Homo sapiens: one gene and its partners. The main gene of each other region encodes a partner of the protein of the gene in region 3 in a complex. Each region holds a gene or a part of one and is shown on either strand. Other genes may lie near its edges.

What was found.
Region 1: DPF1 (region 3) and ACTL6B share a complex: the UniProt entries of both Homo sapiens proteins name them as parts of the neuron-specific chromatin remodeling complex.
Region 2: DPF1 (region 3) and SMARCC1 share a complex: the UniProt entries of both Homo sapiens proteins name them as parts of the neuron-specific chromatin remodeling complex.
Region 4: DPF1 (region 3) and SMARCC2 share a complex: the UniProt entries of both Homo sapiens proteins name them as parts of the neuron-specific chromatin remodeling complex.

Annotation. Positions count from the first base shown.
Region 1 is NC_000007.14:100,641,171-100,647,089, forward strand, and holds the end of ACTL6B (actin-like protein 6B), read right to left. Parts: intron 5,916-5,919; coding exon 5,801-5,915; intron 5,662-5,800; coding exon 5,581-5,661; intron 5,477-5,580; coding exon 5,381-5,476; intron 5,183-5,380; exon of another isoform or gene 5,166-5,182; coding exon 5,079-5,165; intron 2,157-5,078; coding exon 2,076-2,156; 3' UTR 1,927-2,075; downstream 1-1,926. Other genes in the region: TFR2 (transferrin receptor protein 2), read right to left, coding at 1-58, 307-339. UniProt on the Homo sapiens protein: Involved in transcriptional activation and repression of select genes by chromatin remodeling (alteration of DNA-nucleosome topology).
Region 2 is NC_000003.12:47,770,469-47,779,535, forward strand, and holds part of SMARCC1 (SWI/SNF complex subunit SMARCC1), read right to left. Parts: intron 2,469-9,067; coding exon 2,349-2,468; intron 1-2,348. UniProt on the Homo sapiens protein: Involved in transcriptional activation and repression of select genes by chromatin remodeling (alteration of DNA-nucleosome topology).
Region 3 is NC_000019.10:38,209,198-38,214,981, forward strand, and holds the end of DPF1 (zinc finger protein neuro-d4), read right to left. Parts: intron 4,560-5,784; coding exon 4,447-4,559; intron 3,195-4,446; coding exon of another isoform or gene 3,165-3,194; coding exon 3,083-3,164; intron 2,937-3,082; coding exon 2,866-2,936; 3' UTR 1,809-2,865; downstream 1-1,808. UniProt on the Homo sapiens protein: May have an important role in developing neurons by participating in regulation of cell survival, possibly as a neurospecific transcription factor. Belongs to the neuron-specific chromatin remodeling complex (nBAF complex).
Region 4 is NC_000012.12:56,171,675-56,180,379, forward strand, and holds part of SMARCC2 (SWI/SNF complex subunit SMARCC2), read right to left. Parts: intron 7,383-8,705; coding exon 7,323-7,382; intron 7,174-7,322; coding exon 7,136-7,173; intron 6,861-7,135; coding exon 6,730-6,860; intron 6,420-6,729; coding exon 6,348-6,419; intron 3,091-6,347; coding exon 2,977-3,090; intron 2,176-2,976; coding exon 2,022-2,175; intron 1,356-2,021; coding exon 1,263-1,355; intron 1,031-1,262; coding exon 911-1,030; intron 817-910; coding exon 754-816; intron 264-753; coding exon 5-263; intron 1-4. UniProt on the Homo sapiens protein: Involved in transcriptional activation and repression of select genes by chromatin remodeling (alteration of DNA-nucleosome topology).

The DNA of each region.
Region 1 (5,919 bases), on a different chromosome or scaffold from region 3:
TCCGGGGGCCTTCCACACGCTGGTAGACGGTCTGAGAGGATCTTGGGGACAGTTGTTGCTGTGCAGGCGAGGTGGGCATGAGATTGGGGCAAGAGGCCTGGGGGGTGGGGAGGCATCTGGCAATAATGAGGTCAGTGACTTGGGGGTGTCAAATGAGCATGGTGGTGGGGGCGTGGGGGAGGGGCAGGGGTGGGAAGAAGCGAGGTCAGGACACGGTCCAGGAGGGGCCAGCCTCAGGGGCTTGGGAGGGGGCTGAGGGACTTAGAGAGAAGGCCTAAGGGGTCTTCCCAATCCCACTAGTCTTACCGCTCTCTGGAATAGACCCCAAAGCCGCTCCATGCTTGTGTCCCCTCCTGAAGCCTGCAGGCTGTCCCCCAGCGATAAACCGATAAACCGTTTGTGGGAGCCCTAGGAGGGCCCCTTATCAGTCCTGGCAGGCAGCCTGAACCAAGGCTGCTCCTCACCACCCCCAAGGGTGGGGGCACAGTCCTGGCCTCAGTCCAGCCTTCCAGACGTGGCCCCCGGGTCCAGGCCAGAGCACAAGGGGCTGTGCTCTCCCCTGCCAATCTCTCCACAGCCCCACGCCTGCCTCCTCCCTGCAAAACAATCAATTTTTTGACCTTGGGGCGGACTTTGGCCTCCTAGTTCCCATCAGGGGTGGGGGAAGGGGGCCGATAGTGGGGGAGGGCAGAGACATGGGTGCCCCCTCCCCTCTCCTGCTTTTACCCCTCCCTGGATCCTGGGGACCCCTTCCTAAGCCCCGCCATGCCCAGGTGGAAGATTCACCCCTAAGACATCTGCCCCTTCCTCATCTGGCCTTCAGAGTCCCCCAGTGCCCCGGTCCTGTGACATATCAGCTGTCCTCCCTGTCCTGACACTTGCCCCAGTGGCATTCTAAGCTGGAGGCACCACAGTGGTGTGACTTGGGGGTCTGGTCTGGTGGTGTGCATGTGTGTCTCTTTTGAAAGGTCGTTCTCAGACTCCTGCTGGCTGCTGGAGAAGGAGGGGCACAGGTGGGAGCACATGGTCAGATGAGACCAGCGAGAGCTCCCAGATAGGGGTCCTGGGGTCAGGGATATGTGGGTCAGTGGGGAGGAGTGATCAGAGTCCCCGCCAAGGTGTGGGCAGAGCTGGGTGACCCTGGACAAGTCATGGTCCTCCCTGGGCACCGGCCCGTTTGGTCACCGAAGGACTTGGATCACATGGGTTTCTACCTCTTTGGGTTCTGAGGCTGATGAAAGGCCAGTTAGCCTCACCCCAGAAACATGTCACAGGCATAAACTGCTAAACAGGCAGGGGGCGCAGGTCCCCAAACCCTTCCGAGGGCCCCAAGACAAGTAGCTCTGAAGAGGAGGGCTCAGGGTCCCACCAAGTTTCCCTTTCGGGTTTCCCCTGGGAAACATCAGCTCCTACTCAGGTCCAGAGAAGTTCCGAGCTGCTGGGATGCACCAGCGCCCTAGTCCCCGCCCCATGTCTGTCACCACCAAGAGCCCCAGGAAGGAAGGCATAGCGCATCTCACCTGAGCGCAGGTCCTGGGGTGCTCAGGCGTGCTGCTCCCCTGAGACCTAAGGCCTACGCTGAGGCCCCGCCCACCAGGCCCCACCTCCTGTTCCGCCCATCCAGGCTTCACCTCCTGCTCCACCCACCTCCTGCCACACTCACCCCAGGCCGTGCCCCTCCACTGCACCCTGCAGCCCCTCCCACCTCCCACCACAACTGTTAGCCCCCAGCAACTCCCCCAACCCCCGGTCCTCGTCATGTGGCCCTCCCTGGGTCACAACCCCTAGGAAACCTGAGGAATCCATGGCCCCTGGGGCTGTGTCCCAGCACCCACTGTGGGATCGGCATGGGTGTAGAAGTGAGACTCCCTCCCCTCACCTCCCTCCAGACCCCTGTGCCCACTCCCCACCCCACGGAGGCCAAACTTTTTTTTCTTAAAACATTTTTACTTCTTTCAACCCAGAAACATCACCATTAATGAGGACAAGAGGGAAAGGAGGAGGGGGGCAATGTGGCATGGGGGTTAAGGGACTTCCATCTGAGCTTGGGAGCAGGTGTGTGGGGAGGAGTGCCATCAGGGGCACTTTCGCTCCACGCACTGCTTCCCGCCCTCCTCATATTCCTGCTTGGAGATCCACATCTGCTGGAAAGTGCCCTGGGTGGAGGGGGTAATATCAGGGTCAGGGTGGCCTTGGAGGGAGGTGTGGACAGGCAGGTGCAGCCCCTGGGAATCCTCCAACAGGCCCCAACCACCCCTTGGGTTCACATCCCTCTGAAGCCCCTCCCCACCTCATCCTCCCCTCCTCGGTCTGTCCCCTTTCATATTCAGAGGGAGAGTATCCTCTTCATATCATTCAATCAATAATTCATTCATTCAACAAGTATTATTGAACAGCAGTCTCTGCCCTGAGCTAGGCCCTGTTCCTGAGCTGGGGGGATGGCACGCACAGCCCCAGGCCAGGCAACCTGCACCTGGCACTCAACACCCCCTACACACACACAGTCCTTCCCCACCAGGTGTCCTCTTCTCACTCCATCAGGGCTTTGGAACACCGCCAGTCTCCCTCTTTCCCAAGGAAGATATTCCCTCCACCTCACCATTCCAACACTGTGGCACCCCATCTGCAGCCTTCGGCATTACAACTTGCCCCTTGAGGGTTCCTGCAATGAGCATCTCAGAGTGTCCCTTCTCTCTATTTTTTTAAAATTTTAATTTTAATTATTTTTATTTTTATTTTATTTTTTTGAGATGGAGTCTTGCTCTGTCGCCCAGGCTGGAATGCAGTGGTGCGATCTTGGCTCACTGCAGCCTCCGCCTCCCAGGTTCCAGCGATTCTCCTGCTTCAGCCTGCTGGGTAGCTGGGATTACAGGCGCGTGCCAACACGCCCGGCTAATTTTTGTATTTTTAGTAGAGACAGGGTTTCGCCATGTTGGCCAAGCTGGTCTCAAACTCCTGACCTCAGATGATCCGCCCGCCTCGGCCTCCCAAAGTGCTGGGATTACAAGCGTGAGCCACCGCGCCCAGCCTAATTTTTATTTTTTGTAGAGATGGTGTCTCACTATGTTGCCCAGCCTGGTCTCAAACTCCTGGGCTCAAGTAATCGTTCCACCTCAGCCTCCCATAATGTTGGGATTACAGGCGTGAGCTACCACGGCTGGGCTTCTTTGATCTTTCTCAGCCTACACACATGTGCTGTCCAATGCAGTGGCCACTAGCTTCCTGTAGCTCACCAGCCCTGGTCCAAATTGAGACGTGCTCTAAGTGGAAAATACACACCCAATTTTTTTGGGTTTTTTTTGAGACAGGATCTTGCTCTGTCACCCAGGTTGGAATGCAGTGGCACAGCTCACTGCAGCCTCAACCTTCCAGGTTCCAGTGATCCTCCAACCTTGGCCTCCCAAGTAGGTGGGACTACAGGTATGCGCCACATTGCCAGTTGCTTTTTAAATTTTTTGTAGAGATGAGGTCTCGCTTTGTTGCCCAGGCTGGTCTAGAAATTTTGGGCTCAAATGATCCTCCCGCCTTGGCCTCTCAAAGTGCTGGGATTACAGGTGTGAGCCACTCCACTTGTCCAGGATATATTATTAATACTTAATTTCAGGCCGGGCATGGTGGCTCACACCTGTAATCCCAGCACTTTGGGAGGCCAAGATGGGCAGATCACTTGAGGTCAGGAGTTTGAGACAAGCTTAGCCAACACGGTGAAACCCCATCTCTATTAACAATCCAAAAATTAGCCAGGCGTGGTGGCTCACGCATGTAATCCCAGCTACTCGGGAGGCTGAGGCAGAAGAATCGCTTGAACCCAGGAGATGGAGGTTGCAGTGAGCCAAGATTGCTCCACTGCACTCCAGCCTGGGCGACAGTGAGACTGTCTCGAAAACAAAAACAAAAACAAAAAAAGGAAAAAAACAAGAACTGTGTGGCTGACATGCTTCAGCCCTGAGCTAAGTTCAGACTGCCAGCCTCTGTCTTTCTGACCCTGGTTTCTGTCTCCCTGGGGGACTTCCTTTCTCGTGGATGTCCTCCTTGTCTGTCATGGCCCCACTGTCCCCTCTGTGTGACTGATACCCTCCAGATGCGGGTTGCAACTCCAGCTCCCTGCTCAGTACCTTCCTTCGAACCCAGCAGCAGGTCCAGACTGAACTTACCACCTCCTGCCCCAGAACCAACCTGCCTGCCTCCTTTACTAGTTGCCCCTTGCTGTCCACCCCATCCCCACTGCTACCCATGCTATGACTCCGGGACAATCAAAACAGCCTCCTTGTAAGGTCCCCTTGACCCCAGCTCATACCCCGACCCCAAAGACTCATGCCTGGCAGTCTTTCCAATCATGCCTGCATTGCCACATCACTCCCTTGCCCCAAAACATCAGGGTCTCCCCTCTGCTGACTGAGCACAGTGGGTGTATCACCAAAATCTCATCCTGACCAATCTCTCCAACTACCTGTCCCTCTACTCCCAATTTTTTTTTTTTTTTGAGAGTCTTACTGCGTCACCCAGGCTGGAGTGCAGTGGCACGATCTCAGCTCACTGCAGTCTCCGTCTCCTGGGTTCAAGAGATTCTCCTGCCTCAGCCTCCTGAATAGCTGGGATTACAGGCATGCACCACCATGCCTGGCTAATTTTTGGATTTTTAGTAGAGACAAGGTTTCGTCATGTTGGCCAGGCTGGTCTCGAACTCCTGAGCTCAAGTGATCCACCCGTCTCGGCCTCCCAAACTGCAGGGATTACCGGCATGAGCCACTGTGCGCAGCCTCTTCTCCCCAGTTTGTAAAAGTAGAGATGGGTCTTGCTATGTTCCCCTGCTGGGTTTTCAACTCCTAGCCTCAAGCCATCCCCCCACTTCAGCCACCCAAAGTGCTGGGATGACAGGTGTGGGCCACCATACCGGGCCCCTGCCCCCCGATTTGTGTCCTGTTCACCCTTCTGGGAACATTCATTGACTGACATTTCTCAAAACTAAATGTTTGTTGAATGAATGAATGAACGAAGAGGCAGTCAAAGTGGCGGGCACTGTCTGGGTCTCCCCTCTCCCCCACAGTCAGTGCTAGGCCAGGTCCCTTTCCTCTCACCAGTGAGGCCAGGATGGAACCCCCGATCCAGGGGCTGAACTTGCGCTCCATGGTGCTGTTGCTGGCAATGAGTTTCAGTCGCATGCTCTGGGGGTAAAAAGGGGCTGGGGGAAGCAGACACCTAGGTTCTGGGAAGGGACAGGGCTTGGGGGAGAGGGGAAGACTTGGGAAGCCACAGGGGCAGGGGTTCTGCTCTGGTGGCCAGAACAGAAGGAAGGACATGGGAAGGATGAAGGGACTCAGTCCTGGACAGCTGAGCCAGGACGGGTGTCCAGGGCTCTGGGTCAGGGGTGGGCTCCTACCGGTGGGGTCTTCTGGGAAAGCTCTCGATTGAGCCTGTCAGTGAAGCCCTGCAGCAGTGTGTTCCCGCCGGTGACAATGACACTCCCGTACAGGCCCTGAGAGCAGGGAGAAGGAGTGAGCTGCGGGGGCAGCCCCCCAACCCCGTCTCCCCACTTCCCCTGGGCCCCTTTGCCGAGCCTCAGCTCCGGCCTGGCCTCACCGGGCGAATATCAATGTCACACATGCCGATGCTGGTGGTCACCACGTGGCCCACACCCAACATGGTGTTCCCCGACAGGCCCTGCAGAGAGAGGTGACTGGGGCTGTGGGCTCTCTCCCCCTTCCCCCCAGACCCCTGCAATCCTTCCCAGCCTCCCCCACGCCCCAGGATCCAGGGACTGCAGCCAGCACCCACCCCAGTCCTCGCCACACAGCCAAACCTTGACGTTCGAGGGATCAAACAGGCCCTCAGGGATGCGGAGTCGCTCGGCGCCGTAGTCTGTATTGTAGCCATTGGGCATCTCGTAGTGCACTGTGGGCATTTGTGCAGCCACCCTAC
Region 2 (9,067 bases), on a different chromosome or scaffold from region 3:
AAAAATTAACCAGGCATGGTGGCAGGTGCCTGAATTCCCAGCTACTCGGGAGGCTGAGGTACAAGACTCACTTGAACCTGGGAAGCAGAGGTCGTGGTGAGCTGAAATTGCACCACTGCACTGCAGCCTGGGCAACACAGCAAGACTTTGACTCCAAAAAAAAGATCAGCCTAGGCAACACAGCAACACCCCGTCTCTATCTTTATAAATTAAAATTAAAAAAAGGTAAAAAATGAAATCATACAAGTACTAAAAGAACACATTGCTGAATTCCTTTATAACCTAGGAATGATAAAAGCTTCCCAATTATAATTCAAAATGAGAAAAGTAACCACATCAATATATTTAACTAAATTTCTTTAACTTTTTGGATAATAAAAACATCACAGACAAACACATTTACAGCAAGATCACCGAAACAATACTATTTTTTAAAATTTTATTTATTTATTTATTTTTTTGAGATGGAGTCTCACTCTGTCGCCCAGGCCGGAGGCAGTGGCGCAATCTCGGCTCACTGCAAGCTCTGCCTCCCGGGTTCATGCCATTCTCCTGCCTCAGCCTCCCAAGGAGCTGGGACCACAGGCACCCGCCACCACGCCCGGCTAATTTTTGTACTTTTAGTAGAGATGGTGTTTCACCTTGTTAGACAGGATGTTCTCAATCTCCTGACATCGTGATCCGCCCACCTCAGCCTCCCAAAGTGCTGGGATTACAGGCATAAGCCACGACGCCCCGCCTATTATTTCTTATTCTCAATTATATTTGAAAGATCAGTAAGTTGTTAAACGATTTAGTGATCAAGAACAGTCCCCACAAAAAAGGTCTACTGATCATAGATTCATACAGGCAGCTAACAGCACGCTAGAAACAACGAAAACCAAAATGAATTAAAAGACAAAAATTATGAGGAAAGATATGACAGACAATTCCTAAAAAGCTAGTATTTGTAAAATCAGAGTTCGAAAATATAAATAAAGGAGTATAAGATAGCAGAGGCTGGGCACAGTGGCTCCCACTTGTAATCCCAGTGCTCTGGGAGGCCGAGGTAGGGAAATCACTTGAGTTCAAGACCAGCGGGGCCAACACAGTGAAACCCCATATCTACTAAAAATACAAAAATTAGCCAGGTGCGGTGGGTGGTGCATGCCTGTAGTCCCAGCTACTCAGGAGGCTGAGGCAGGAGAATCGCTTGAACCCGGGAGGCAGAGGTTGCAGTGAGCCAAGATCACTCCACTGCACTCCAGCCTGGGCGACAGAACAAGACTGTATCTCAAAAAATAACATGATATAATATAACATAACATAACATATCATAACATAAAAATAAAGGCTGGGTGTGGTGGCTCACACCTGTACTCCCGGCACTTTGGGAGGCCGAGGTGGGTGGATCACTTGAGGCTGCGAGTTCAAGACCAGCCTGGCCAACATGGTGAAACCATGTGTCTACTAAAAATACAAAAATTAGCTGGGTGTGGTGGCGCGCACCTGTAATCCTAGCTATTCGGGAGTCTTGAGGCACAAGAATCGCTGCAGGTTGCAGTGAGCCGAAATCACACCACTGCACTCTAGCCTGGGTGACAGAGCGAGACTCTGTCTCATAAATAAATTAATTAAATAAAATAAAGATAGCAGAGAAGGGCTGGTGTGGTGGCTCGCACCAGTAATCAAAGAGCTTTCAGAGGCCAATGCAGAAGGATCGCCTTCCCGCCAAAAATTTGAGACCAGCCTGGGCAACACAGCAAGATCCCATCACTACAGAAATTTAAAAGTCACCCATATGCGCGTGGTAGCACATGCTAGTAGTCCCAGCCTCTTGGGAACCTGAGGTGGGAAGATGGCTAGAGCCGGGAGATCAAGGCTGCAGTGCGCTGTGATCAAACCACTGCACTCCAGCCTGGGCAACAGAACAAGATCCTGTCTGTAAAAACAAAAATAAAACACACAATTGCAAGGACACCAAAATTATATTCTCACACAACTTCAGAAGGTATCTCACCTACAAAATATAAAAAATTCCATAAATTCTATTTATGGCATAAGAGCTGCATCAGGAGAAAGCATGGAGAAGACTCGGTACGGCGAGAGGATAGGGAACTGCAACATAGTAAAATATTGTTAGGTCTTCACAATGACTGCTGCAATATTTAATGCAAATGTTAAATGCCTCTTCAAAAAGCAGCTTCCTACAGTTAAAAAATAGTAATATTCTATAACTAAAATTTGTTTTTTGCTTTTTTTTTTTAAATTCTACACGCTAGCAGCAGCAAAGGAAAAAAGCTGGATGCTACACCTAAAAGTATACAGCAACTGAGGATGCCCAAATAACAGTAAGCTGATGTACTTACAGGGAGTTTGGTGAAGGCCGGGTTGGTGACATGCTTCCCAAAGGCATCTTCCTGGAACTGAAGAAGCTGCACCACCAGCCCAGCCAGTGTTTTATTGGTAGGAGCATCCGCATGAACATACTGCAAGATAAAGACAGGCATTCAAAAACTAGTACAATTTTTGCAGGAGAAAATGTTGGCTTACTTCCTAGTACCTACTAAGTACTTACGTTATGGGAAATTTATAGATGTCTGAGACACGCTCTGTGCTATAAAGGAGCTTACAAAAACAAATATGTGTGTGCATTTAAAAATGGTTAAGACGGTTAATTTTTTTTTTCTTTTCTTTGAGACGGAGCTTCGGTCTTGTCACCCAGGCTGGAGTGCAGCGGTGCAATCTCGGCTCACTGCAACCTCTGCCTCCCGGGTTCAAGTCATTCTCCTGCCTCAGTCTCCAGAGTAGCTGGGATTACAGGTATGAGCCACTACCCCCAACTACTTTTGTATTTTTAGTAGAGACGGGGTTTCACCACATTGGATAGGCTAGCCTCAAACTCCTGACCTCATGTGACCTGCCCCTGCCTCGACCTCACAAAGATAAATCTCCTGTGTTTTTTACCAAAAAAAAAAAAAAAAAGTGAAATATTATCCATATTAATGTAAAGAATGTCAAAAGCCCAAACCAGTAGTAGACACATCAGCTAGGAAGCTTCACAGCAAGGAAAAATAATGGGTAACACAACAAGAAAAGAATAAATTAGTGAGTTAAATGTAAAAGTTTTATTTGGCAATTACATGTTCAATATCACTTTGAGTAGCCAATACTCTCAAAAAATTTTTTTTCTTTTTTTTTGAGACAGAGTCTTGTTTTTCACCCAGGTTGGAGTGCAATGGCATCATCTCAGCTCACTGCAACCTCCGCCTCCAGAGTTCAAGCGATTCTCCTCCCTCAGCCTCCCTAGCAGCTGGGACTACAGGCGCGCAACCACCATGCCCGGCTAATTTTGTTTGTATTTTTAGTAGAGACGGGGTTTCACTATGTTGGCCAGGCTGGTCTTTAACTTCTGACCTCATGATCCGCCCACTTCGGCCACCCAAAGCGCTAGGATTACAGGCGTGAGCCACCACACTCAGCCTCAAAAAGTATTTTTAAACCTCCAATTCCAAGCAAGAAAAACATCTATACCTGCCTTTCAGTTGGACGAGAGAATTTTTATTTTTTTATTTTTTTTTGCCGGAGCTAACTTTCGAACTACCATCCAACATTTCAAGGTTAATGTGGTATGTCTCTATTACAATAAATATTTTTTAGATGAGTGGTGTATGGTCAAAATTACATCAACTGCAAAGTCTACAATTATTATGCATAGGACAAAGGGCACACAATTTCTGCTACTACCATTGAAACTTACTTACAGCATATAAAAAGGCAATCATTTACTTTTTTTTTTTTTTTTTTGAGATGGGGTCTTCTTCCATCACTTAGCCTGAAATGACGAAACCCCGTCTCCACTAAAAAACAAATACAAAAAATTAGCTGGGTGTGGTGGCGCACACCTGTCCCCATGCACTCCAGCCTGGGTGACAGAGCCAGACTCCGTCTCAAATAATTAATTTTAAAAACTTTTTTTGTGTGTGTGTTTTTGGAGTCTCGCTCTGTCACCCAGGCTGGAGCACAGTGGCGCAATCTCTGCTCAGTGCAAGCTCTGCCTTCTGGGTTCACATCGTTCTCCTGCCTCAGCCTCCCAATAAACTGGGACTACAGGCACCCACCACCATTCCCGGCTAATTTTTTGTATTTTTAGTAGAGACGGGGTTTCACCATGTTAGCCAGGATGGTCTCGATCTCCTGACCTCGTGATCCACCCGCCTCAGCCTCCCAAAGTGCTGGGATTACAGTACTGTGCCCAGCCAATTTTAAAAACTTTAAAAACTACATACTACTTTCCCCTTCCTTATACTATATTGATAATTTGCAACAAAAACTAGCAAGCCTAGTTTTTGAAGGACCATATACTTTTTTTTTTCAAGACAGTGGTTTCTTGCTGTCTCCCAGGATGGAATACAGTGGTGTAATGACAGCCACCGCAGCCTCAATCTCCTGGGCTCAAGTGATCCTCCTCCTCCACCTCCCAGAGAGCTAGGACTACAGAGGCGTGCCAACACATCTGGCTGATTTTTAATTTTCTGTACACAACCGTTTTCACCAACTTCTCTGGGCTAGTCTAGAACTCCTGGGTTCAAGTGATTCTCTCACTTTGGCCTCCCAAAAAGTACTGGGATTAGAGGCATAAGGTACTGCACCTGGCCCATATACTTTCAAGTGAAAATTTGAAGTCAGTTTTTCTCCAATATACTCAACATAGTACTTTTTTTTTTTTTTTTGAGACAGTCTCACTCTGTTGCCCAGGCTGGAGTGCAGTGGTGCGATCTTGGCTCACTGCAAGCTCTGCCCCCCAGGTTCACAACATTCTCCTGTCTCAGCCTCCCGAGTAGCTGGGACTACAGGCGCCCACCACCACGCCTGGCTAATTTTTTGTATTTTTAGTAGAGACGGGGTTTCACCATGTTAGTCAGGATGGTCTCGATCTCCTGACCTCGTGATTCGCCTGCCTCGGCCTCCCAAAGTGCTGGGATTACAGGTGTGAGCCACCGCGCCCAGCCCCGTAAATTTTTAATAAACGGTATTCAAGGGCCAGGCGCGGTGGTGGCTCACACCTGGAATCCCAGCACTTTGGGAGGCCGAGGCGGGCGAATCACGAGGTCAGGAGATCAAGACCAACCTGACTAAAGCAGTGAAACCCCGTCTCTACTAAAAATACAAAAACTAGCCGTGCATGGTGGCACTTGCCTGTAGTCCCAGCTACTCAGGCGGCTGAGGGAGGAGAATCGCTTGAACCCAGGAGGCGCAGGCTGTAGCGAACCCAGATCGCGATCGTGCCACCGCACTCCAGCCTGGGTGCACTCCAGCCTGGGTGACAGAGCGAGACTCACTCTCAAAAAATATAAAATAAAATAAACTTTGAAATAGACCTGCTATGTACCCACAAAAATTAAAAATTAAAACTCTGGCCGGATGCAGTGACTCATGCCTGTAATCCCAGCACTTTAGGAGGGCAAGGTGGACAGATCACTTGAGGTCAGGAGTTCAAGACCAGCCTGGCCAACATAGTGAAACCCCGTCTCTACTAAAAATACAAAAATGAGCCAGGCATGGTGGTGCATGCCTATAATCCCAGCTGCTTGGGAGGCTGAGGCAGGAGAATGGCTTGAATCCGGGAGGCGGAGGTTGCAGTGAGCCGAAAGTGCGCCACTGCACTCAAGCCTGGGTGACAAAGCGAGACTCCGTCTCAAACGAGAAAAAAAAAAATACTTCAAGTGTATCTTACAAAACTGACAAAATACATTGTACTTATCCGCAAGGTAACTTCATAATCTTTAATAAGCACAGGTTTCCTAAAGGAGTCATATAATGTACTGCACTTTTTTTGTACACGGTAAAGCAACATAAAAAAATAATGACCGGCTGTGCACGGAGGATCACACCCATAATCTCAGAACTTTGGGAGGCCGCGGCGGGTGGACCACTTGAGGTCAGGAGTTTGAGACGAGCCTGGCCAACATGGCCAAACTCCATCTCTACTAAAAAAATACAAAAACTACCCAGGCAGAGTGGCACACACCTGTAATTCCAGCTACTCAGGAGGCTGAGGCAGGAAAATTGCTTGAACCCAGGAGACAGAGGTTGCAGCAAGCCAAGAGCGTGCCACGCACTCCAGCCTGGGTGACCCAGTGAGACTGTCTCAAAAATAATAACTACAATCTGTATTTTACAGATTAACTAAACAATGCCAAACTCTATAGCTGAAAAAGACAATGTCCTTGAAAAAGGCTGTTCAGATGGAACCAAATCAACATTTCAGGTAAATATACATATATATGTAAACATATATGTAAATATATAGATGTAAATATATATATATTTTTTCTTTTTTTTAAACCGAGTTTTGATCTTGTTGCCCAGGCTGAAGTAAAATGGCGCGATCTCAGCTCAGCACAACCTCCGCCTCCCGGGTTCAAGCAATTCTCCTCCCTTAGCCTACCGAGTACCTGGGATTACAGGCATGCGTCACCACATCTGGCTAATTTTGTATTTTTAGTAGAGATGGGGTTTCTCCATGTTGGCCAGGCTGGTCTCGAACTCCCAACCTCAGATGATCCGCCTGCCTCGGTCTCCCAAAGTGCTGGGATTATAGGCGTGAGCCACTACACCTGGCCTCAGGTAAATATTTATTTTTTTTTTTTTGAGAGAGTCTTGCTCTGTCACCTAGGCTGGAGTGCAGTGGCGTAATCTCGGCTCACTTGCAGCCTCTGCCCACCGGGTTCCAGCGATTCTCCTGCCTCAGCCTCCTGGGTAGCTGGGATTACAGGCGCACGCCACCACGCCTGGCTAATTTTTGTATTTTTGGTAGAGACGGGGTTGCACCATGTTGGCCAGGCTGGTCTCAAACTCCCGACCTCAGGTGATCTGCCCGCCTTGGCCTCCCAAAGTGCTGGGATTACAGGCGTGAGACACCATGCCCGGCCTATATTTTTAATAACTACAGTGAATATAGGCCGGGTGCAGTGGCTCATGACTGTAATCCCAGTACTTTGGGAGGACGAGGTTAGAGGACTACTTTGAGTCCAGAAATTTGAGACCAGTCTGGGCAACACAGTAAGACCCTGTCTCTATTTATGTATTTATTTTTTGAGACACTTTCGCTCTGTAGCCTAGGCTGGAGTGCAATGGCCCGATCTCAGCTCACTACAACCTCCACCTCCCAGGTTTGAGTGATTCTCCTGCCTCAGTCTCCTGAGTAGCTGGGACTACAGTCATGTGCCACCACACCCGGCTAATTTTTGCATTTTTAGTAGAGCAGAAGTTTCACCACATTGGCCAGGCTGGTCTCGAACTCCTGACCTCAGGTGATCCACCGGCCTCGGTCTCCCAAGGTGCTGGGATTACAGGTGTGAGCCACAGCCCCCAGTCTCAGTCCAATTTTTAATAAACTATAAAATATTTAATTCTGATTAGATTTTTTTTCCAAATCATCCTACCAAATTACCAAACATGAAAATGCATGTAGGCCAGGCACAGTGGCTCATGCCTGTAATCCCAGTACTTTGGGAGGCTGAGGCTGGCGGATCACCTGAGGTCAGGAGTTCAAGCCCAGCCTGGCCAACATGGTGAAACCCCAGCTCTACTAAAAATAACAAAAATTAGCAGAGCGTGGTGGCGGGTGCCTGTAATCCCAGCTACTCAAGAGGCTGGGGTAGAAGAATCACTTCAACTTGGGAGGCCGAGGTCACACCACTGCACTCCAGCTTGGGCAGAAGAGCGAGACTCCATCTCAAAAAAAAAAAACAAAAAACAAAAAACAAAAAAAACACTGACTCCTAATTAAGAAATTTTAATTTCTATGTCATAAACAATTAATCTGGTTTTTTTTTGTTTTTGTTTTTTGTTTTGTTTTGTTTCGTTTTGTTTTGAGACAAGGTCTCGCTCTGTTGCCCAGGCTGGAGTGCAATGGTGCCAACACAGTTCACCGCAGCCTCGACCTCCTAGGCTCAAGTGATCCTCCAAGGACCCTGCCTCAGCCAAGTAGCTGGGACTACACGTGCATGCCACCACAACTGATGTATTTTTTTGTTTTGTTTTGTTTTGAGACAGGGTCTCATCATGTTGCCCAAGCTGGTCTCCAAATCCTGGGCTCAAATGAACCTCCCACCTGGAATTCCCAAGTGCTGGGATTACGGACGCAAGCCACTGCACCTGGCCCAATTAATCTTTTGATCAAAAAAAGTCTATTATATTTTATTTAAGAAAACAAAAATTTATTAGTCTCAAAATATTTCAAGTAAGAGTCAGTGTGGGCCAAGTGTGGTGGCTCACACTTGTAAGCCCTGCACTTTGGGAGGCTGAGGCAGGCAGAGAGCCCAGGAGTTCGAGACCAGCCTGGGCAACACTGCAAAACCCTGCCTCTACTGATAATACAAAAAATTAACCAGGTGTGGTGGTTCGTGCCTGTAGTCCCAGGTACTCAGGAGGCTGAGGTGGGAGAATCACCTGAGCCCAGGAGGTTGAGGCTGCAGTGTGCTATGATCTCACCACTGCACTCCAGCCTGGGCAACACAGAAAGACCCTGTCTCAAAAAAAAAAGAAAATTCCTAAATGAAGTCTCAGGTATCTTCCATTTGAAAAAGAAGGTAAATAATATCTATCATTTAGGACTGCTATGAGGACTTTAAGTGAGTTATACTTTAAGTACCCGGCACATGGTAAATGCTCAGTTGTTCACTGAATGCATGAGCTGAATGCAAGAGTTTGAGGTTGCAGTGAGCTATGATCACGCCACTGTACTCCAGCCTGGGCAACACAGAAAGACCCTGTCTCAAAAAAATAAAGTAAAATAAAAATAAATAAAAAATGACACTAACAAAATCATGTTTACTGAGACTGAAACTGTTGTCTGCTCTGAAAATGCAGTATTAAATGCACTAGAAACGGTTAGTTAAAACCAATGCGTACACCAAATAGAAATGCACTGTGTAGAAAAGAAGCAAAGAACTTTGTGATAATATTTTCACCACTTCAACGCTAACACCCAGAGACTGAAAAGATTCTGGCTGTCAGGCCTAGGGTATATACGTTTCTCAATCTCAGTAGACCCTAGAAATACACTCTGGCTTTACAAAGT
Region 3 (5,784 bases):
AGACTCACAAGGGGCCCCTGCCTCCTTTGGCCCTGGCCACATGGCTGCATTTGGGACACTCTTCCCCCTTCTGTCTGTAGAGGTGGGAGCAGACCCCTGCTGCCACTTGCCAAGTGAATGCTTTGGGGGTAGAAAGCAGCCCCTGATCGCCCCAGATCTGCATCTGGCCTGGTGAACATTTGCATTTTGGGAACCGGGATCAAACTGGTTTCTGAATCAGGAAATTCCTCCTGAAAATCCCGAAGTCCAGCCCCTTGAGGGAAGCCTAGCCTCCTGACGGGGCTGGCCAGGTGGGGTCTTTCTGCCTCCCTTACCCATGTACCTGTCGTGGAGTTTCACATCTCTGAGCTAAAACCCAGTGCTTCTCTGACTCAGACCCTGCCCCCTCCAAAAAATGTCTTTTTCCAAAAGGCGTGGGGCTGGCATCCGGAGGAGCAGGACCAGCCATTCCCACATCTCCTAAAAATTCTGGAGTTCTAGACACCCTCCCTGTCTCCGCCCTCCTCCTCCTCGAGGCCCCGTCCTCAACCCGCACTGCCCTCCCCCCGCCACCGGGCGAAGGGGGCGGGAAGCCTGGGAACAGGCTGTTCTCACATCCTCTCCTGGCGCCGGAGCCACGCCAGCTGCTTCCAGCACCCCACAACTCGCGCGCACGCCAGCCCCTGGTCGCGCCCAAACTGTGCTTTGAGGCCCGGCCCTTCCCTTCGTGTCCCAGTTTCCAGCTTCCTCTGCCCGTCTCGGACATCCCTGTCTCTCCTCCCCAATCTTTCTGGGTCCCTCATACCTCCGGCTCTCTCTGCAGATTGTTCTGCTGTTCCCCTAAAGTCTGTCTCCTTCTCTCCCCTGCCGCCCGCGTCTCTCCCCATCTCTGCCTGTTGTCCTGGGACTTTGCCTGCCCCTGATCCCAAGTCTCTCTCTCTCCACCCGCAATGTGGCTCCCTCTCACTCTTCCCTCTCCTGATAGATGTTACCTCCTTCTCTGCCTCCCCTCTTGGAGGACCTCTCCCTAAATCTGCTGCTGCTCTTCCCCAATCACCGTCCTCCTTCTCCTCCTCCCGTCTCTCCCAGCATGTCAGCTATTTTTTATTAGTTATTCCCTCTCTGCCGTTAAACCTCCTTCTCACCCCTGCTCCCTTCCTCTCTCCTGGTCCTTCCTCCTGTCTCTCTCCCTTCTGCACCCTCTTGCTCTTTTTTCTGATTCTCTCAATAACTGTGTGACTGTCCTCGTCTCTTTCTCTCTCCTGATCTGTGTCCTAGTTCCCTCACTCCTCACTCCCGCCCCCCACCCGTCGCCCACATCTCAGTCTCTCTCCCAGTGCCCGTGTCTAGATACCCTCCTGCCCTCCCTTAGCGCCTCTCTTTCCACCTTATCGCCACCGCTGATTTGCCCCACATCCAGGACACGGAGCCCCCTGGAGATGTCTGGGTCTGGGATGACACCTCCTGACACCCCCGTTCCCCACCCCAGCCTCAGGAGGGGCCAACCCACCGTCCTCTTCCCAGCCCTTCCCTTCCCCCGGCCCGGCTCCCGCCTCCCTCCCGGCTGCGCCCGCTGCAGCTGCAGCAGCCCGTTGCCAGGGCAACCACAGCTGGCTGGGCGGGAGCCCCTCCACCCCATCCCCCTTCTCCTCCTTTCTGGCAAAGCAGGGCGGAGCTGGGACAAAGCCGGGGAGAGGCAGGGTGCAGGCAGGGGAAGAAGGAGGTGGATGGAGGTAGGGGCTGGCTGGTCGCCTCACCCCCAACAAGGCCCGTCGACCCCCGGTCCTCCTTCTTGGTGATGCCCCAAACCAGACGGGAGAACGAGGCAGTCGTGGGCAGAGGGGTCAGGCCCAGTTTAATACACAGAACAAGTTAATTCACAGCAGAGGCAGGCAATAGAGGAGACTCGGTGACAAGTGAGGGGGCACTCCTGGATTAGGGGACATCCCCCCAAAACCCACCACCTCCCCCACCTGCAGTCTCAGTTTCCCTTTTTTAAAACCCGAACAACAAACACACACAACCACAAGAAACAACCACGCCCCCTCACTCCCCCAAAATGGCCAGCGAGGGGGGCGGGGGCCGCCAGGCCTGGCGGGGCGGGAGGAGGGAGAGAAAAGGAGTCCGTGGCGGAGTCTGTGCTTCTCATTCCAGCAGGCGCTGGGCGGGGGCCCACCCGGCCCCACCACCGCCACCCACCAGCCACGGCAGGCACGGGGCGGGCACAGGCTGGGGCGGTCGGGGAGGGGCAGGAACAGAGTTCAAAACCAAGGTTCACATCATGCAGTATCCACCGTGGGCACCAGGAGGGGCGGGTGGACACCACGCCCACCGCCCTGGGCACAAGAGGGGAAGGCGCCCACCTTGGGTGGGGCGCGGGACGGCTGCAGCTCCAGAAATTGGGGTTGGGGCGCCCGGCGGGGGGCCGGCAGAGGCGGGTGCCCGGTGGACACTCTCAGCAGCGCCCCTCCACCCAGCCAGGCCTTGGAGGACTCTTTGTATATATTAACTTCTTTTCTTTTCTTCTTTTTTTTTTTTTTAACTTTTTGTCTTTTTCTTTAGAAAAAGGCTCTGTCCATGCCCCTGGCTGGCACCCACCACCCCCCATGCCCGCCCAGAGGCGGGGTATGGCTTTGAGGGGAGAAGCCCCTGGTGTCCATTTGCCAAGGGACAGAGAGGGAGGGAGGGAGGGAGAGGCCCTGGCCGGGCCCACCCACCCACAGGGCAGACATTCCACTTGCACAGAGGGGAGGGGGTGGCCCAGCCCCCTCTCGGCTTCCCCCTCTCCCCCTCCCCCTGCGGGATGTTCAGGGTGGGGGAGAATTGAGGAGCTCGGAGAGGCAGGTAGGCGAGCACCACCCCAGAGTCGCGGCGAGCCGAGCCGGCCTAGGTGAGGGTGATGTAAGCAGAAGCCTTTTCCTTCAGGTGCCGGAGACAGAGGTGACAGCTCCAGCTCCCTGCGGGGGCAGCCGAAGCTGAAGTCAGGCCCGGGTCCGGGAGGGCTGCCCCAGCCCCTTCCCACCCCGAGGACACACAGTCTTCCACAACCAGGAGATGGCGTTCCCACCCACCCGCCCCATGGGATGCCCACCTCTCCTCTCACCTTCCGGGGGCTCCGCCATGGGGGGACTCAGGCAGTACATGTGGTAACCCCGATCGCAGTCATCACAAAACAGCAGCTGGTCCTGGGGGGTGAGACCCGCCCAGCTGGCACCCTGGGGGCACGGGCACCAGAAACGGGGGTGGGGGGCTGGGGCAGGGGCTAGGTCAAGGGGGCTGGGGGAGGTGAGGCCTTCCGAGAAAGGTTCTGAGAAGGTCTTTGCAGCAGGAAATGTGTGCGCAACACTGCTTAGCCAAACACATATCCCTCAGGACAGTCCCTTTGCGATTTATAGTGGGGGTTTTATAAGGCTCTGTGGAAGGCTTATTATTATTATTATTTTATATTTTTAGAGACAGGGTCCTACCCTGTTGCCCAGGCTGGAAGTGCGGTGGTGCAGTCACAGCTCACTGCAGCCTCACACTCCTTGGGGCTCAAGTGATTCTCCTGCCTCAGTCTCCTGAGCTGGGACTACAGGTGTGCGCCACCATGCACGACTTTTTTTTTTTTTTTTTTTTTTTTGAGACGGGAGTCTCACTATGTTGCCCAGGCTGGTCTGGTCTAGAACTCCTGGGCTCAAAATTCCTCAGCCTCCCAAAGTGCTGGGATTACACAGGTGGGCCACCGCTCCCGGTCTGTGGGAAGTTTAAATGACACCAAGATGATCTGATAGCAGCTCTGCCAGAAACGGTCATGGCTTTTGTTTTTGTTTGTTTTTTTTTTTTTTGAGACGGAATCTCGCTCTGTCACCCAGGCTGGAGTGTGCAGTGGCGCCATCTCGGCTCACTGCAATCTCCACCTCCTGGGCTCAAGCCATTCTCCTGCCTCAGCCTCCCGAGTAGCTGGGATTACAGGCACCCAGCTAATTTCTGTATTTTTGTAGAGATGGGGTTTCACCACGTTGGCCAGGCTGGTCTCAAACTCCTGATCTCAGGTGGTCCACCCACCTCAGCCTCCCAGAGTGCTGGGATTCCAGGCGTGAGCCACCGCGCTCCGCCTGTGGAAGGCTTTAAACAACCCTAAGATGATCTGATACCAGCTCTGCCAGCAGTGGTCATGGCTTTAAATCTCAGCTCTGCCATTTCCCTAGCTGGCTGACCCTGGGCAGGTCTCTTTCCCTCTCTGAGCTCAGTTTCTTCCCTGTGAAGTGGAAACAAGACCACCTGCTTCAGAGGGTGGTTGGGAGGATCCAGAGAGATGAAGAGGAAAAAGGGCCAGGTTCGATTTATGGACACCGGCATAATGATAACACAGGGGACTGGTGTTCACCAGGGAAGGCTCAGGCACAGGCTTTAGGCTTAAGGGGCAGAGGTGGACGTGCCAGGCGGGGCGGGCAGCAGGGCACGCGGGGGGCGGGCGGCACTCACGTCGTTCTCGGAGGTTCCGCACAGGCTGCAGGATTTGCACTCGATGCACTGCCAGCGGTAGGTCCGCACGGCTGCCGTCATGTTCACCGTGAATTGTAAACACGAGGGGTGTCCTGGGGGCCAAGGGGCAGGGGTGCAGTTAGGAGGTCACCGTGCCCCTGGTGGGCACTGACCGGCAGGGGAGCCATAGCTCAGCCCCTACCCCTGGCTCATGACGCCAGGATGAGCTGCCGGGATCCACAGCCTGACCCCACACCTGCCCAGCAACCACGTGGCCGGCAGCAGTCCCCCGGCCACCACAGTCTCCTACCACAACCACCATGGCAACCACACTCTGCTCCCCAGAACGCCATGGCAACCGCATTCCATTACCCACAGTGCTGTGCCAACCACTTTCTACCACCCACAACACCGTGGCAACCACATTCTGTTAACCACCGTGCTGAGACAGCCACTTTCCATTACCCACAGCAGAACGGCCAGGGGTCCTGTTAACCACAGCAACGTGGCAACCACACTCTCCCAGCCACAATGCCATGGCAACCACCTTCCACAACGGGGTCCCCACACTTCGGTTTCATGCAACTGAAGTCCATTCCACTTGGTGCCCCAGCAACAAAACTGTTACTCACATCACAGCACTGTGCAGCGCCAGGCTTAGTCATTCCACAGCCCCGCTGCAGAGACACCCGCAGCCGCTACCTGCAGCCACGACCCATGGCGCCCGCCCCCTGCAACCACGGCCCCGGTGCCATCACAACTACATTCCATTATACTGAGTTGCCATGACAACCATATTTCACTACCCATGATGCCACGACAACCACAATTCATGACCTACTGTGCTGAGGCAACCAGAGTCTATATTGCCCACAAGCCCACCATGGGAAACCACATTCTGTTAACCACAACTCTATGGCGAGCTCATCCTGCTACCGGTGCCCAGGTGGTGGTGTCCGTCACTCACACCACACAGCCCACTACCTGCCATGCCTTGGCCCCTGTCTCTTGCTACTCCTTTTGTCTTGTTTTGGTTTTTGAAACAAGGTCTCACTCTGTTGCCCAGGCTGCAGCATAGTGGCACCATCACAGTGCACTCTGCAGCCTTGACCTCCCAGGCTCCAGCGATCCTCCCACCTCAGCCTCCCGAGTAGCTGGGACTAATGGGGTGCGAAACTATGCCCAGCCTTTTTTTTTTTTTTTTTTTTTTGAGACGGAGTCTTGCTCTGATACCCAGGGTGGAGTGCAGTGGTGCAATCTTGGCTCATGGCAACCTCTGAGCCCCGGGTTCAAGCGATTCTCCTGCCTCAGCCTCCGGAGTAGCTGGAACTACAGGCA
Region 4 (8,705 bases), on a different chromosome or scaffold from region 3:
TTACCTAGGGCTGACTTTGCAGCAGCAGAGGCGACTCGGGGATCGACGACAGAGGCCAGGAAGGCAACAGTGCTCATAACAGGGTTGCCCGACTGACTGAAGGGGATGGGTTGGTAGGCCAGGGGGCCTAGGGAGGCCTCTGAGTCCTCCAGGTATGGGTCTTCAATGGGAAGACGAAGAAAATGCAAGATGCACTCGTCCTGTGTGCGGCTTCCCACATGCTCGGACACTTTGTTCCAGTCATCTTTGTACATTTCCAGTGCCTGGTGGTAGTGGTGGAGACATAACTCCGCTTACTTAGCCACTTTTCTCGAAGGCTGACTCCCCCCATCCTACTAAGGGCAGCTGGTTTCAAAGTTCTCTATGTTCTGGTATTTGTGTACTCTGCTAGGTCCAAGGGGGATCTTGAAGTAGCACTAAGAAAGGATATGAAGTTAATGAAATGGCCCAAATCCCCAGCCTGGAGCTGGTCCTGAAGCTCACTGGAGCCTTGACCTCCTAGGCTCAAGCAATCCTCCCACTTAGCCTCCTGAGTAGCTGGGACCACAGGTGTGTGCCACCACACCTGGCTAATTTTTAAAATTTTTCGTAGAGACGGAGTCTCACTATGTTGCCCAGGTTCATCTCGAACTCCTGGACTCAAGTGATCCTCCTGCCTTGGCCTCCCAAAGTGCTGGGATTACAGGCGTGAGCCTCTACACGGAGCCCACTTCTGTTTTCAGAGAAAAACTCTCTTTTCTTTGCCCCAATTACCTCCAGGAGAAGCAGGGTTTCCTGTTCTGTCCACTCACGAGTGGCACTGGCTGCAGCCTTGCTCTGCAGGGGAAACACAGGCAGGTGAGAAGAAAGGAGCCTGTGACCTCTGAGGAGCGAACATTCTCTACCCCTAGAGTCGGCCCGCACCTCCTACCTTGGAGGGAACATTCTTTTTTGTGTACATGTCTGTGCGCAGCCCAAAGTTTTGCATGTCTGTTGGTTTCTCTTTGCCTTTGTCAGGAAAGTTGAGCATTTGTTGGGAAGCAGAGGTCTGCTATTTGTGGAGGGAAAGAAACAGGTGAGTACAAGTGACCACCGGGAGCCAGGGGCTGACAGAGAGAAAAAACAGACAGAAGGAGCTTCTTTCCCAAAGCCAGGGACACCCCTGGGTGGGACTTCCTCCCTTACTGCTGTAGTTCCTCTGCTCTCATGTCTCTTCTTCCCGGGCAGGGGCCCCCCAATAAAGGGGAAAATGAGCAGCCCAGCAGGGTCTGCACCCCACCTACCAGCTCTGGCTTGCCCTTAGCCGTCTCTGGCACCAGGTCATCCAGCTCTTTGCCCTTTCGCCCAGCCTTGGTATCAGCATCAACCTGGCGGCCCTGGGGGACAGAGCTTGGCGTCATGGAGGCTGGGCAGGAAATGACCAGGCCAAGGCCCTGGAGGCCTCAAGACCATATGCTGGGCGGCCCACAAGCTCTGGGGGCACTCATGCCACTGTTCCATGTTCCCTTCATGATTAATAAGACATGTCGTTGGCATGATATCCATACATATTCACATTATCTTTATAGGTTCTCTTAGGAGCTGGACAATTAGGTTCTAATCCTAGATTTGGTACTCTGTGACCTTGGGCAAGCCACATAACCTTCTTCCTAATTTTTGTAATGGATGAAGTGGAAATGGAAAAAAAAATGAAGATGATAATTATGAGGCAAAAATGAAAAAATGTGGCAAAGATGACAAAGTTTAAAAATTTCATGCAAGTTAATTTTAAGCCATTTTTCTCTATTGACTCCCCTACATTAGCCTGTCTACTCCTTGAGTAAAAGGATAATCTCTTCTCCCTCAGCAATTACAGCCTTAGGTACAAAGGCTGAGAGAGGATGCTAAACACATGGGGCTGATTCCCGTGACCCTTTGCATCCCATGGAAAAGGAAGAAGCCTCAAAACACTCCTGAACCATTACCCTAAAAACCAGAAAAAGAAAAGTTCAAAGAAGCCCAATCTTCCCAACCCGCCCCATCCCCATAGCACCTCACCCTACCTGAGGTGTCTTGGGCTGCAGAGGCACCAGCCCTGATGGTGTGTCAGCCAAGACATGGAAGTGAGAGGTAGGCGGAGGCCCCATTGGGGTTGGTCGACTCTCAGCATCCACCTGGTAGTTAATAAGACCCCACTGTTCTAGGAAGGCATGGACCCTGTGCAGAGAGAGGCAGAGACAGGGTCACACGGATAGCCAGAAAGGTGCACGAGGAAGAGGAAAAGTGGGGGGTAGAAGGGGCATAAACCCCCTCCCCACCCAACCCCGGCCTTTTCCTCTGTTCATTGTACTCCTTAAGAAATCTCACCTACTCCAGTTGTTCATTTATCACCTAAATGCCAGTGACACCCAAGTCTACATCTTCAGCCTGGGCCAATCTCTATATCTACCTACCTACCGAACATTTCTTCCTGAATAGCTAGTAAAACTGAACCAGTTTCTTTCTTTTTTTCCCTAAGAGAGACTGAAGTGCAGTGGTGTGATCACCGCTCACTGCAGCCTCCACCTCCAGGGCTCAGGGGATCCTCCCACCTCAGCCTCCTGAGTCACTAAGACCACAGGCACGTGCCACCATGCCTAGCTAATTTTTTTGCATTTTCTCTAGAGATGGGGTTTTGCCATTTTGTCCAGGCTGGTCTCGAACTTCTGGGCTCCAGCAATCCTCCCACCTTGGTCTCCCAAAATGTTTGGATTATAGGCATGAGCCACCACACCTGGCCTGAACCAGTATCTTTCAATTACAGACATGCTCCTTCTTTGTCCTATATTCTACACTTCAGAGAATGCCATTGCTAATCCCTCAAGTCATTCATTCCCCAAACCTGTACTTCACCTTTCTCTAGAGGTGCTTTTTTCTGTCTGCTCCTCTGTGTTCCTTGCTGGCATCTCTACTGTTGCCAAAACACATCCATAGGCAGGCATCCTCATGTACCCCCTTCCCCTCAGCCACAAGACCCACCTCATGATGGCACAGACATCACCCGCTAGGTTTCGGCGGCAGGCGGTAGAGGTAAGATACTCTTGGGGGTTCAGTCGGTAAGTGTCAATCATAAAGTTTCGATAGGCCAGGTAGCTTAGAAGAAAGAGAGAGAGAAACAAGAAGAAGAAAAATAAATGTTTGTTAAAGGGCTAAAGGAAAAAATGGTAAGAGAGCTAATGACTTCTCCTGCATGATAAAGATGGAAAAAAGTAGATTATTTGACTCTACATGCTGAGTGCCTGCTATGTGCTAGATGAAAGGGTTTCAAATATGTCTTACTTTTCCTTGATGGGGTTTTCTTTAAATGAATTATCTCCTTGGCTATACTTAGGGATATTTCATACAATTTTTTTTTTTGAGATGGAGTTTCCCTCTTGTTGCCCAGGCTGGAATGCAATGGCATGATCTTGGCTCATGGCAACTTCCGCCTCCTGGGTTCAAGAGATTCTCCTGCCTCAGCCTCCTCAGTAGCTCTGATTACAGGCATGTGCCACCACGGCCGGCTAATTTTGTATTTTTAGTAGAGACAGGGTTTCTCCATGTTGGTCAGGCTGGTCTCAAACTCCTGACCTCAGGTGAGCCTCCTGCCTCAGCCTCCCAAAGTGCTGGGATTACAGGCATGAGCCACTGCACCTAGCCATTTTATACAATTTTTAAACAAGGAATTAGAAGTTAAGAAAATACTCATTTCCAAACTCAGATGTTAAAAGGAAGTCCTTATTCATGCATATAGCTAGTCAGCATACCACGGTAAAAAACATATGTTTTGAAGTTGAAAAGATCTAAGTTCAAATCCCAGTTCTACCATGAGGACCTTGGCAATTTACTTCGAATTTTTAAACCTCAGTTTCCTCATTTGTAAAATGGAATGTCTGTTGAGAGGTCTATAAAGTACTAGTATAGTGCCTGGCGCATTGTAGGGGCTCAAAAAAATGGCAGCTATCATGTGGTACAGTGTAAAGTTTCAGATCATGGGCCAGATTAAAGGATTCAGATCCTGGTTTTATTTACTAGCTCTGTGACTTTATGCAGGTGACTTGACTCCTCTATACCCTATCTGTCAACTGAAGATGATATCTACCTCTAAGGTTGACGTAAAGATTAAATTACTCAATGTAGGTTGGACATTTAGTATAGTGCCTGGGAGATACTAAGCTCTCAATAGATGCAGGCAATTATCATCATTTACTATTTTTTTTTTTCTGAGATGGAGTTTCACTCTTGTTGCCCAGGCTGGAGTACAATGATGAGATCTTGGCTCACTGCAACCTCCACCTCCCGGGCTCAAGTGATTCTCCTGCCTCAGCCTCCCAAGTAGCTGGGATTACAGGTGCGTGCCTCCACACCCAGCTAATTTTTGTATTTTTAGTAGAGACGGGGTTTCACCATGTTGGCCTGGCTGGTCTCGAACTCCTGACCTCGTGATCTGCCCGCCTGGGCCTCCCAAAGTGCTGGAATTACAGGCGTGAGCCACCATGCCCAGCCATCATTTACTATTTTATACCAAGAGTTCAGTTCCTACTCCAACCCTGCCTGCATGTCATGTTGAATTCATTTCACCTGATCACTACTTTCTTTTCACACATACTGCTTTCTCCAGGAAGAGAAGGAAGAGAGAACCATAGCAAGCTATGAAGAAAAAACACGGAGGGACCCCCAGAGAGGGGAAGCTGTGGAATAGCTGGGAAGAAAACTTGTTCAGTTCTCAGTCTCACCCACCTCATCAATGTGGTTATCTTGAAGTATTCCTAACCAAAGAAGACTGCCATGTCTTATCCAAAGCCAAGCAGGTTTGGCCTGAGGCAAAATCTTTTTTTTTTTCTTGAGACGGAGTCTTGCTCTGTCGCCCAGGCTGGAGTGCAGTGGCGCAATCTCGGCTCACTGCAAGCTCTGTCTCCCAGGTTCATGCCATTCTCCTGCCTCAGCCTCCCAAGTAGCTGGAACTACAGGCGCCTGCCACCACGCCCAGCTAATTTTTTTTTTTTTTGAGACGGAGTCTCGCTCTGTCACCCCGGCTGGAGTGCAGTGGCGTGATCTCGGCTCACTGCAACCTCTGCCTCTCAGGTTCAAGTGATTCTCCTGCCTCAGCCTCCAGACTAGCTGGGACTACAGATGCATGCCACCACGCCCGGCTAATTTTTTTTGTTTTTGTTTTTTTGTTTTTTTTGAGACGGAGTTTCACTCTTGTTGCCCAGGCTGGAGTGCAATGGCGTAATCTCGGCTCACTGCAACCTCCGCCTCCCGGGTTCAAGCGATTCTCCTGCCTCAGCCTCCCTAGTAGTTGGGATTACAGGCACGTGCCACCACGCCCAGCTAGTTTTGTATTTTTAGTAGAGACGGGGTTTCTCCATGTTGGTCAGGCTGAGCTCGAACTCCTGACCTCGGGTGATCCGCCCGCCTCAGCCTCCCGAATTGCTGGGATTACAGGCATGAGCCACCGCGCCTGGTCTTTTTAGTAGAGATGGGGTTTCATCATGTTAGCCAGCATGGTCGCGATCTCCTGACCTTGTGATCCGCCCGCCTCGGCCTCCCAAAGTGCTGGGATTACAGGCGTGAGCCACCACACCCAGCCTTGTTCATTAATTTTTTTAGATACGGGGTCTTGCCGTGTCAGCCAGGCTGGAGAGCAGTGGTGTGATCATGGCTCACTGCAGCCTCAAACTCCTGGGCTCAAGCAATCTTCCCATTTCAGCTTCCGAAGTAGCTGGGACCACAGGTATGCCCCACCAGGCCCAGCTAATTTTTTTTCACTTCTTTAGAGATGGGAGTCTTGCTATGTTGCTCATGCTATTCTTGAACTCCTGGCCTCAAGGAATCCTTCTGTCTCAGTGTCCCAAGTAGCTGGGATGATTTACAGTCGTGAGCCACCGTGGCTCCTACACTTCTTTCCCAGTGAGCCCTCTCCATCCCTTAATTTATATAAACTGGTCTTCTATTAGTTCCTTCTCTTGTTTTTCTATTAAAACCTACTCTCAGGAACCAGCCTGGTAATAGTAATTTACACTTTAATCAAAACTTTTGTGCTAGGAATATCTGCAGTATAGACGATATCAGTAATATGGATTTAAAGGCTCTATACCCTGTTAAAAAGAAGTTGAGGCACTGGAGTAGGTACTTGTTATGTATAGAACATGCTTAATATCACCCTTGGGCAAATCCTAAAGAACATGTGTCTACATGCTAGGCCAGGGCTGCCTAAAGGCAGATATTGTGCCTTTGTAAGCCTAGCATAGTGCCTGGCTCATGGAAGATGCTCAAGAAATGTTTGCTAAACTGAATGTTACTGGATCAGGAAGGGTGAATGTGGGGACAGGAGGGAGAAGGAGAATCATGAGATGAGATTTCCTTACATCTCTGGAGTCTTGGACTTGTTCTTGCCGTTGAAGAACTCGGGGAGAGCCCTCCGCTCAATGGCATGAACACTGCAAGAAAAGCCAGAATGGTTTCAGAAGAAGGCATTGGTGAAGGGATGGGGGCCCCAAAGGGAGGAAAAGCCTAGAAGGCAAAGAAGGAAAAGAGCTCGAAATTGCTGAAGTTAGAAGCTTGGGGAGAACATCCCACAGGCTGTAAGACTCAAAAGGACACAAGGAGCTCCCCTAAAACTAAAGTGTACTCTGGTCTATTTGGGTGAGGAAAAAATAACTTATTTGGAGGAGGCAGGGAGAAGAACAGCCTGTTGACCCCTGGAGGCAGGGAAATAAGGACTCAGTGAGAAGTTGGGGACAACCATACCTATTGTAGTCAAACCAGGCAGCGTAGCTGGGAATGATGATGTGGTGGGTCTGTTCAGTCACATTGTCCTCATGCAGGTCTGGATTCTTGGTCTGCTCTCCCTTGTTCCCCGTACTGTTCTCATCCTCATCCTACGAGTATGGAGGCTGCTGGACACTCAGCATTCCTGCTTCCTCCCTAGCAACCCTCTGCTTCTCCCACACCCCAGGAATGTGGACACTAAAGATGGGTGATGGGACTGAGCAGTCATGGGCCCCAGGACTCTGAAAGGGTCAGAGTTTTGAACAAAGCTGGAATTAGTCTACAGTGGGTAAAGTCTGGGCAGTGAAAAGTTTGGGCAGAATGAACTTTATAATCACAAATCAGAATCACATAGAGAGGTAGGGCCTCTCTAAACTGGCTCCACCTTGCCCGTCGTCTCCATGCTTTCATCTTCCTGTTCATCTGAAAGAGAAAAACCAAGATGTAAGGCTGGAGCCTCCTGAGGGGCAAGAAAGCCCTACCAAAAGCCCATCAGGCTAGCGAAAAGGGGGCAGCTGAGCCCTCCCCTTCCCTTGGCTCTGACTGCCGTGCCCAAGAGGCTCCTGTCTTACCCAGGTCGGTCATGGTGCCGCCTTTGACTGGGGCCGACTCTGAGTCTTTCTTTGTGTTGACTGCGAAAACAGAGAGTCATTTTATCAGACAGATTTTGCCTAATTCAAGCCTTCAATTTAATAGTTCCAGACATCCTACTTTCTCCAAAAATTGTCTCCACCTGATTGCAAAATATAGTAATTCTCTCCAGTCACAATTATTCTAGGGCTTCAAACTTCTTGCTACTTTCCCCACTTCTCCAACCAAAAATTAATTTAACTTATTTCTCTATGTACATTCATAAATGATTCTTGTCTTTGACAGGCCTTTATCTCCATCTATGTATCTGTAAGCTTTTAATGGTCTGATACTGAATCTGACCAAATCACTCTGTGGAAGAATGGTTAAGTGTTAAACATTTTTGAAAGCAGAGGATACTTTCCTCAACTGAATTCATATACATATGCTCAGGAGCAAACATAGAGAAGAGAGAGAGCTGATTGATGAGGAGGTAGAAGCCAGAACTCTTCTTGGTGGCAGCCCTAATCCTACCCCTGAAATACACTTCTGGAATACCTGGGGTGAGTCTACAGAATACAGACTGTAAACCAGTATTGGTGGAGCAATGTCTCCAAAGTGGGGTTCTAACATAGGACGCAAAAGATGATCCACTGCAACTCAGGGAGAGAATACAGAACTTCTCTTCATGTTTTTTGTTTTGTTTTTTTGAGACGGAGTCTCGCTCTGTCGCCCAGGCTGGAGTGCAGTGGTGCGATCTCGGCTCACTGCAACCTCCACCTCCCAGATTCAAGTGATTCTCCTGCCTCAGCCTCCCGAATAGCTAGGATTACAGGCGCCCACCACCACGCCTGGCAAATTTTTGTATTTTTCGTAAAGATGGGGTTTCACCGTGTTAGCCAGGATGGTCTTGATCTCTTGACCTCGTGATCCGCCTGCCTCGGCCTCCCAAAGTGCTGGGATTACAGGCGTAAGCCACCGCGCCCTGATTCTTCATGTTTGTTTTTATCATTCTTTACATTTTTCAATTTTTTAGATATGTTTGTGTTTTAAAACGTTCCCATGGTAGCGGCTTAACAGTACAAGTACATAATTAATGCATATATACATTTTTTTTTCTTTTTTTTTATTTGAGATGGAGTCTCGCCCTGTTGCCCAGGCTGGAGTGCAGTGGCGTGATCTCAGCTCACTGCAAGCTCCGCCTCCCAGGTTCACGCCATTCTCCTGCCTCAGCCTCCTGAGTAGCTAGGACTACAGGCACCCGCCACCACGCTCAGCTAATTTTTTTGTATTTTTGGTATAGACAGGGTTTCACCATGTTAGCCAGGATGGTCTCGATCTCCTGACCTCGTGATCCGCCCACCTCGGCCTGCCAAAGTGCTGGG